Linked DNA regions of Homo sapiens. The protein of the gene in region 1 purifies or fractionates together with the protein of each later gene. This does not show direct contact. Each region holds a gene or a part of one and is shown on either strand. Other genes may lie near its edges.

What was found.
Region 2: the proteins of GNL3 (region 1) and RPL4 purify together in Homo sapiens (affinity purification with mass spectrometry; 2 studies listed by BioGRID and IntAct, with this or other methods). This does not show direct contact.
Region 3: the proteins of GNL3 (region 1) and NOP56 purify together in Homo sapiens (affinity purification with mass spectrometry; 4 studies listed by BioGRID and IntAct, with this or other methods). This does not show direct contact.

What each region holds. Positions count from the first base shown.
Region 1 is NC_000003.12:52,688,827-52,692,042, reverse strand, and holds part of GNL3 (guanine nucleotide-binding protein-like 3), read right to left. Parts: intron 3,157-3,216; exon of another isoform or gene 3,010-3,156; intron 2,970-3,009; coding exon 2,837-2,969; intron 2,804-2,836; exon of another isoform or gene 2,728-2,803; intron 1,452-2,727; coding exon 1,339-1,451; intron 1,306-1,338; exon of another isoform or gene 1,213-1,305; intron 1,099-1,212; coding exon 972-1,098; intron 666-971; exon of another isoform or gene 599-665; intron 502-598; coding exon 414-501; intron 1-413. UniProt on the Homo sapiens protein: May be required to maintain the proliferative capacity of stem cells. Stabilizes MDM2 by preventing its ubiquitination, and hence proteasomal degradation.
Region 2 is NC_000015.10:66,497,515-66,499,685, forward strand, and holds the end of RPL4 (large ribosomal subunit protein uL4), read right to left. Parts: intron 2,139-2,171; coding exon 1,893-2,138; 3' UTR 501-1,892; downstream 1-500. Other genes in the region: SNAPC5 (snRNA-activating protein complex subunit 5), read right to left, coding at 128-217. UniProt on the Homo sapiens protein: Component of the large ribosomal subunit. The ribosome is a large ribonucleoprotein complex responsible for the synthesis of proteins in the cell.
Region 3 is NC_000020.11:2,655,632-2,659,126, forward strand, and holds the end of NOP56 (nucleolar protein 56), read left to right. Parts: coding exon 1-115; intron 116-302; coding exon 303-403; exon of another isoform or gene 404-583; intron 584-769; coding exon 770-918; intron 919-992; exon of another isoform or gene 993-1,063; intron 1,064-1,142; coding exon 1,143-1,264; intron 1,265-1,307; exon of another isoform or gene 1,308-1,379; intron 1,380-1,449; coding exon 1,450-1,587; intron 1,588-1,741; exon of another isoform or gene 1,742-1,857; intron 1,858-2,297; coding exon 2,298-2,663; 3' UTR 2,664-2,762; downstream 2,763-3,495. Other genes in the region: IDH3B (isocitrate dehydrogenase [NAD] subunit beta, mitochondrial isoform e precursor), read right to left, coding at 2,878-2,891, 3,128-3,206. UniProt on the Homo sapiens protein: Involved in the early to middle stages of 60S ribosomal subunit biogenesis. Required for the biogenesis of box C/D snoRNAs such U3, U8 and U14 snoRNAs. Part of the small subunit (SSU) processome, first precursor of the small eukaryotic ribosomal subunit.

The DNA.
Region 1 (3,216 bases):
CTTAAATCTCTGCTTTCACCAAAAGCTTTAAAAAATAAAAATAGGCCGGGCGCGGTGGCTTGGCCTGTAACCCCAGCACTTTGGGAGGCCGAGGCGGGCAGATCAGCTGAAGTCAGGAGTTTGAGACCAGCCTAACCAACATGGAGAAACCCGTCTCTATTAAAAATACAAAATTAGCCGGGCGTGGGGGCACATGCCTGTAATCCCAGCTACTCTGGAGGCTGAGGCAGGAGAATCACTTGAACCTGAGAGGTGGAGGTTGCAGTGAGCCGAGATTGCGCCATTGCCCTCCAGCCTGGGAACAAGAGTGAAACTGTCTCAAAAAAAAAAAAAAAAAAAATCACCTTCCTTGAGATAACCAAAATAAAATAGTGTGTCACTATAATATTACAATTATGGACACCTCCATTTACCTTGTAAGCCCCATGGATACACCAACATTACACATCTGTTCTTGTTTTAAGCTATTGATAATGCTGCTTTTCCCCACATTTGGGAAACCTACAAATAAATGGGAAATCCAGATATAAAAAGCATTATATGTTGGCACTTATGAAATTTTCACTGCCTAATTTTCCATTTCCCTGATGTTTAGGGCAAGATCAGAGTTGGATCTCAGTGTCTTCACTTCAATACTAAGACCAATTTTAGTTTCTTCATTTCTTGCACAAGTAATGCAAAGGCAGGAAAATACTATAAATTCAAACAAACCAAGAACTTTTAGAAACCAGCTTCCTACAGTAATCAGTCCCAACAAAAAACCTGAATCTGGCAGCAGTTGTGTAAGTTTTTTTCTTTAAATTGTGTGTGGTTATGTGCTTTCAGTAAGGTATAAGCAAGAAGCTAGTATTTGAGTGAGCCTTTTACTTGACAACAACTCCATACACTGCTGCTTGGGCACTTGGAGAGCTGGCTAAACTTCTTAACTATTTCAACACTTAAAAAGTAAAAAGTAATGAACTGAAACTCACCAATTACTCCAACCCGAATGGCTTTGCTGCAAGTTTCCTGAAAACCTCCAAGAAGTTTCCAAAGGCCCTCTTTCCCAAAGCAGACTTCACTTCTGAATGGAGCAGCATTCTTCTTTGCCTTCACACGCTAAAATTCCAAATAGTTGAATTATTCTGGCAACTTACCTGATAAATTTCAACAAACCCCAAGCAATCAGGCTCCAGAGCCCAGCTCTTAAGATAACTACATTGCCTTTCAGATGATCTCTGGCTGAAATCAGAGTTGGATCTTGTAATTTTTCATTCACTTAAATCAAGATTTTGTACACTCATCATATTTCAACCAAAATCTGAAAGAATCACATTTCTTACCACTAATAAAGGATACCTTGGTTATCTTCCCTTTATCCTTTGGTTTTGTTGAGGCTCTGAACACCACTGTTGGCAATTCTTTCTTCAAATAATTTAGCCAGCTCTCCAAATTCTCCTTTGGTACCAGATCTGATAGCAATTAGAAATAAGACATTTGCGGCCAGGCACGGTGGCTCACGCCTGTAATCCCAGCACTTTGGGAGGCCGAGACAGGCGGATCACGAGTTCAGGAGATCAAGACCATCCTGGCTAACACGATAAAACCCCGTCTCTACTAAAAATACAAAAAAATTAGCTGGGCGTGGTGGTGGGCACCTGTAGTCCCAGCTACTCGGGAGGCTGAGGCAGGAGAACGGCGTGAACCCGGGAGGTGGAGCTTGCAGTGAGCTGAGATGGCGCCACTGCACTCCAGCCTGGGTGACACAGCAAGCCTCCATCTCAAAAAGAAAAAAAGAAAAAGACATTTGCTCCAATGTGGCTATTTTGTTGAGATGCATTTGCAAAATCTGGCAACTATAGATTTTACTCTGGTTTACATTTTCCCAGTCCTTTCAAAAGGATTTAACTAGAAAATCAGGGCAGGGTAAGCTCCCCTACCATACTGCCCGTATCTTAACAGAGCTCAGCATCTGCACTTCTCTATTTCAATTCCCCTTGTATTGCTCACTTGAAAACTTCAGGACAGACTCAACGTCTGGATTACAACCCTACTAACCCTAGAGCTATGTTTCCAGAATTTACCTTTAGCTAGCAGCCAATTGTTTCTTCATTTTTGAGACGAAGTGTTGTTGCCCAGGCTGGAGTGCAGTGGCACAGTATCGGCTCACTGCAACCTCCGCCTCCCGGGTTCAAGCAATTCTCCTGCCTCAGCCTTCCGAGTAGCTGGGACTACAAGTGCCCATCATCATGCCCGGCTAATATTTGTATTTTAGTAGAGATGGGGTTTCGCCGTGTTGGCCAGGCTTTTCTCGAACTCCTGGCCTCAAGTGATGTGCCCACTTCAGCCTCCCAAGCAGCCAATTGTTTCTTAACCCCAACAACAATTTTAGATCTCATTCCCATTTTCTGCTTTGTAATTCTCTGTTCTGGGTTTTCTTTTTCCTGCTGCTCAAACTCAGATGCATAATTATGCATTTCATTTAAATATTTTGTCACATACGTTCCAATTTATTTCACTCTTGAACTAATACCCGACATTGTGTAGGTGTGGGGAATTTGTCACACTGTCATCACTTCCTAGATGAAATATACTACACAATAAGCTGGGTATAGCAGCTTACACTCTTTATTTAAAAGATGGTAAATACTGAATGGCAAAAGAATAGTAGAAACCAGTTGAGTCAGTTGTAAAAGTCACCTGGCTCCCCACTGCCTAGCACTGTCTCTGGCAAAGTGCACGTACTCTGGCTTTGCTGAGATCAGAGTTGGATCTAATCAGTCTTCAGTGACTATCAGACTGTTTCCTCGTACCTCACCCATGTACACAGAAGACAAAGGGTACCCTCTTTACTCACCTGATTTATTTAATATAAGTACCAGCTTTTTCTGTCCACTCTGGACAATGGCCTCTTCTACCTGAGGACATCTGCAACCAAGAGGATCTCTGGCATCCAACACCTCTAGGACAACATCGGAGGCTTCAATCACCTATCAAGGAAAAAATGACCAGAACTACATTATCAAGGAGAAAATGATCAGAACTACATCCCTTGTTCTGGTAATACCTTCCACAAGAGAGTACTGGCATTATCCATTTAGCAACAGGGTGAGCTCAGAGTTGGATCTCATGTCTTCACTTTGGTATGAAGAATGTTGACCCTCATCATTTCTCACACAGGAAAGTAAAACATAGGCTTGCTCAGCAGTCTCTGATCAAGATGGATTTCAAAAATGC
Region 2 (2,171 bases), on another chromosome or scaffold:
GGCGCCACCACAGCTAGTGAGTAGCGGAGAACTGGCCGCAGCAGGTGGTCACCACAGAGGCCCAGGTTGGGGGGAAATGGTCGCTCGGGAGGAATGGAGGAGGGGCAGGAGAGGGCCGCGGGGTCACCTTGAGGCGGTTCAGCTGGTCGTGCAGGGCTGCCTTCAACCGCAGCAGCGTCTCCTCCTCCTTGCGCAGTTCCTGAAGCCGGCTCAGCATGTTGCCTGGTCACATAGCCAACCTCCGGGCTGCTGTCGGCCCGGCACTCGGTGATGACGCCATCGCCGCCGACTCCCGGAAACCGAGCGGGGAGGCGGGGCTGCCCGACACATTGAGGAAAGGCGAGGAGTGCGCCCCCTTCCGGCGCCCGCCGTAGCCTGGCCACTCCGCGGGGGACGAGCTGCAGGAAGGGGTACAGCCTGTGTCAAAACACCTTGATTCATGAGTAATGATCAGGATTTTGAAATTAGATCCATGGAGCTGTAAAGAACCTGAAGAAATCTTGGGTTTGGCTATCCTTTAATCCGATAGGCCATTTGCGCACCAAGTGGTCAAACACCGTTTCAAATGACCGGGTGAACAGCACTTCCAATGTGGTGTGCCACCAAGTGGCTATCTTTAACCCCACAAAACTTGCACATGTGTTTGAAGGCAGGCACCAAATCAGTAGCACATGAACTCTACTGTGTTAAGAGGCCCTGCAGGGTAGGACTCACAGTGGACTTTAAAGGGGTAAGGCTGCACAAAATAGAGAAATAAAGAGCATGAAAATAAAGCCGTGCTAAGAAACGACGTGCTTAAGAACTGAGATTTGGCCCTGGAAATGGGGAGGGTTAACAGATCACCTTGGCTGTGAACTGAGACTGTCTTGACAGTTCGAGACTGTCAGAGAGAAGCTGACAGTTTAACAATCCAGATGCAAAACAAGACTTTTGACACAGGACAAGAGGTTAATTCTAGGGTAATATTTGCAGTTTAGCTTTATGGGTAAAAAAAAACACCCTTATATCTGGAGGCATTTCATGGGTACTTCTTTTGAACACAGTTGGTTAACATAATCACCAAGACACACAGGCAGTCCTGAAAAATGCTTCTGGTACTTTTCAGAGAGTCTTGCTCTGACGCCCAGGCTGGAGGGCAATGGTACAATCTTGGCTCATTGCAACCTCCACCTCCCAGGTTCAAGTGATTCTCTTGCCTCAGCCTCCAAGTAGCTGGGGTTACAGGCATGCACCATGACTGGCTATTTTTTATATTTTCAGTAGAGACGAGATTTCATCATGTTGACCAGGCTGGTCTTGAACTCATTGGCTCAAGTGCTCTGCCCACCTTAGGGTCCCAAAGTGTTGGGATTACAGATGTGGGCCAGTGTGGCCTTCTGGCACTTTTTCAAACCATGGGTGAAAATACTCAACTCTATTGTTATAGCTGGTTAAAAAGAACACTTCTCAAGAGGTAATCAATTTTACTGCAGTACCAAAAAAATTGTGCTCTCCAGTTGTGCCCTCTTGTGGTTAAAGTTAAATCTTTACAGAATTTAACCTATTTTCCATCTGGTGGGGAGCTAAACTTGAACAGCCTCTGCGTTTCTGACCAAGTCCTGTTACACCTATTTTTCAAGCCACATTATTTAGAAAACCACAACTTTTTTTAAATCATTCCCCTTCCACTGAACTCCATGGACTTAGTATAAATCCATGCCCCATTTTATACCACACTATATAAAATGTAACAGTCTAAATTATGGCCAACAAAATGTCACTTTAAAAAAATTCTAACCAAGCTTTACAGAGCACACCAAGTCATGTTTCTCACTGCCTGTATAATCAGGTCTTTATTCAAAAGAAGCTGTCCAAAATGATTTGACCTTTATGGAATAATCAAATTTAAGAGTTTATGCAGCAGGCTTCTTCTCCTCTGTAGTAGGTTTCTTCTCTGCAGGCTTCTTTTCAGGGGCTGGTTTCTTGGTAGCTGCTGCCTTTTTTCCCACCAGAGGCTTCTTCTGCTTCTTAACACCAACAGCAGCCTTCTTTCCTTTCTTACCTACCACAGGCTTCTTGCCTGCAACCGCCGCCTTCTCATCTGATTTGGCTTGTAGTGCCGCTGCTGCAGCAGCTGCCTTATCCACCCGGAGCTTGTGCTGCAACAAATTAGGCAGAAAACAGTAAGAATC
Region 3 (3,495 bases), on another chromosome or scaffold:
GAGCTTCTCCAGTCGTGTGGTGTCTTTATCTGAATACCGCCAGAGCCTACACACTTACCTGCGCTCCAAGATGAGCCAAGTAGCCCCCAGCCTGTCAGCCCTAATTGGGGAAGCGGTGCGTCACAGGGGACTCAAAAATGGGAGAATAAGGACTGTTGCCATGTGCACCTGCACTGCTGTATTTCGTGACCCACCATGTCTTCCCTAGTTGTGCTTGATGGGGAGGTGGGGAGCAGGGCTGTCGTGCAACTGGGCAGGTCAGCAGTTCATTTCTCTGACTGCTTCCTTGACTCTCTCTCCAGGTAGGTGCACGTCTCATCGCACATGCTGGCAGCCTCACCAACCTGGCCAAGTATCCAGCATCCACAGTGCAGATCCTTGGGGCTGAAAAGGCCCTGTTCAGGTACCAGTGAGGGCACCTGCCCACAATCAGGTGCCACTTCTGGTGCCCACTGCTTGTTGGGGGATCACGGTGATGGCTGACCAGGGCTCCCTGACCTATACAGGCCTCTGCTATGGGGGTGATGGCCAGTCCTGGTGTCTGAGTGATTCCCAGGGCCCAGCAAAGGGACCAAGTTTCCAGGTCAGCGACATTGGATGCCTTCCCTCTGCCTCTGGGAGCTATGGGTTGGCATGCATTGGGGTAGAGATCCAATCTGGCCTGAGGCTCACTCAGGACTTCGGGGTGAGAGGAGGGGAGGAGCTGAGCTGCCTTGGCTAATGGGGTTGAAATTTCTGATCTTAAACTCTCCACTGAATATTCTCTCAGAGCCCTGAAGACAAGGGGTAACACTCCAAAATATGGACTCATTTTCCACTCCACCTTCATTGGCCGAGCAGCTGCCAAGAACAAAGGCCGCATCTCCCGATACCTGGCAAACAAATGCAGTATTGCCTCACGAATCGATTGCTTCTCTGGTATGGGTGGGGGGGCGTTGGCAGGTGTGAGAAGGGGCTGGGTGGCTGGGTGGGGAGGCTTGCAACCATAGCTTCCACAATGATGGCAATATTTTTCGTCAACAGCAGTTCACCTAGTGAGTGTTGAGACTCTGGGTCTGAGTGAAGCTGAGGGTAGAGGGAACACAGGGTTGGGGTAGTTTCTCTCTTTGGGCTGACAGGCTTTGTCACCCACACACATCCAGAGGTGCCCACGAGTGTATTCGGGGAGAAGCTTCGAGAACAAGTTGAAGAGCGACTGTCCTTCTATGAGACTGGAGAGATACCACGAAAGAATCTGGATGTCATGAAGGAAGCAATGGTTCAGGTCAGTTGGGCTTTGCTGGGTGTGGAGTGGCATAGCTAGCTGTTGGAGGTGATGAACTGTCTGAGCCTGACCTTGTAGAATGGAGGCAAAAAAACTGATTTAATGAGCCTGATCCAATAAAGCCAGAAAGGAGTCCTCAGAGCACCAGAAGTCTTCAGGCCCTTTTAGCACTTTTCTTTGACCAGGCAGAGGAAGCGGCTGCTGAGATTACTAGGAAGCTGGAGAAACAGGAGAAGAAACGCTTAAAGAAGGAAAAGAAACGGCTGGCTGCACTTGCCCTCGCGTCTTCAGAAAACAGCAGTAGTACTCCAGAGGAGTGTGAGGTCAGTAGGCAGCACGGCCCTGGCAGAGATCCTAGGTTGTAGGATTTTCAACAGCAGAACAAAGGATATGCTGCATCAAGCTGTGGTCTTGAGTCCAGGCTTTTGGACTGAAACAAGGACCTGAAACATCTAAAACTACCTCTTGATTCTATAGGAAGGAGATAGGTGCTGAACTTGCTCAAGAGCCCAGAGAGCTGGTTGTAGCTCACACCCGTTCCCTGGGCATGTGTGTTCTGTCCTCGGCTGCCTCCCAGGAGTCCTCAACCTGGGGTAGTGTAAATTCCTGCTCTGCTTATTATCAGACGTGTGTCCGGAGGTGGTCGTGTTTCACAGTGGGGATGGGGGCAGGGAGGTCCCCAATGTGCTAAGCTACAATCATTCTCCCTGAGATTTTCATTTAGCACCCAGTTTCTTAAACAGTGTTTCAGGGCCCTGTCTGGAACTTGGCATGATGGTTCTGTTGCGACCAGCATGGTGGGTGTTTTTTAGGTTTTTTTTTTTAATGGGCTGAGGTAATTTCTCATGACATGTTTTCCTTCTAATTTGGGACAGCCTTTGGGGTGGATTTCTAAAGTTATACCCACACAATTAAACTATCCCAGAAACACTGGGCAATGTTAACGACACGCGTTCCCCTGCCTTGGCTACTTAATTGCTGAAGATGTAATGAGCACTGTTCTCACAGCCTGTTCCCCTGTCCTTCCCTTTAGGAGATGAGTGAAAAACCCAAAAAGAAGAAAAAGCAAAAGCCCCAGGAGGTTCCTCAGGAGAATGGAATGGAAGACCCATCTATCTCTTTCTCCAAACCCAAGAAAAAGAAATCTTTTTCCAAGGAGGAGTTGATGAGTAGCGATCTTGAAGAGACCGCTGGCAGCACCAGTATTCCCAAGAGGAAGAAGTCTACACCCAAGGAGGAAACAGTTAATGACCCTGAGGAGGCAGGCCACAGAAGTGGCTCCAAGAAAAAGAGGAAATTCTCCAAAGAGGAGCCGGTCAGCAGTGGGCCTGAAGAGGCGGTTGGCAAGAGCAGCTCCAAGAAGAAGAAAAAGTTCCATAAAGCATCCCAGGAAGATTAGAATGCAAATGGACATTCTCTGGGAGGTGGGGCATACCATAGCCCAAGGTGACATTTCCCACCCTGTGCCGTGTTCCCCAATAAAAACAAATTCACAAGAGTTGGTTCATGTTCTTTATTGAACACCTTACATGGGTATGGACAGGGCCTATGGGTGGGGCAAGGCAGCAATGACAGCCTCAGTGAAGTCATGGCAAGTAGCATAGCCACCCATGTCAGAGGTTCGAACCTGTGGGGGAGAATCATCATCATCCATGTGGCCTGGGCTCCATCCTAACAATCCCCATCACCACCCAACAGTCTGTCCCCTAAGGAAGCCGGCCCAAGGACAACCTAGGCTCTACCCAGCAAGGTGACCATGGTCCACTGCTTAGAGGCACAAGGTCTCTTCCCTGGTACACTGCACTGAAGGGTATGGGGAGTGTGGTCCTTGCAAGGTTGGAAGAAATAAAGGGCTCTAGCTCCCTTTAGTCTGCAGGTGACCGATGACAGACTTGATGAAGTCGGTTGTGGTGCTGTAGCCGCCCATGTCTCGAGTCCGCACCTACAGCCACCACCGGCAACAGCCGTGGGGAGGGAGAAAAGAGAGCCCATGAAGGGAGGTAGGGCAATGTGATTGAGGAAATGGAAGCCAAGAATGCGTGACAGCCAGAAAAAAGGCAATGCACAGGAATGGAAGGAGGAGCCAGGATGGGAAGCACATGGACCTGCCACTCCTCTTAAGCCACTATTAGCTGTGCTGCAGCCAGGGCAGGACAGGAGGCTGAGCAGGCAAAGATGATGGGAAACGCAGATCAGAGGCAGGATGTGGCTACCTTCCTTGGAAGAAATAG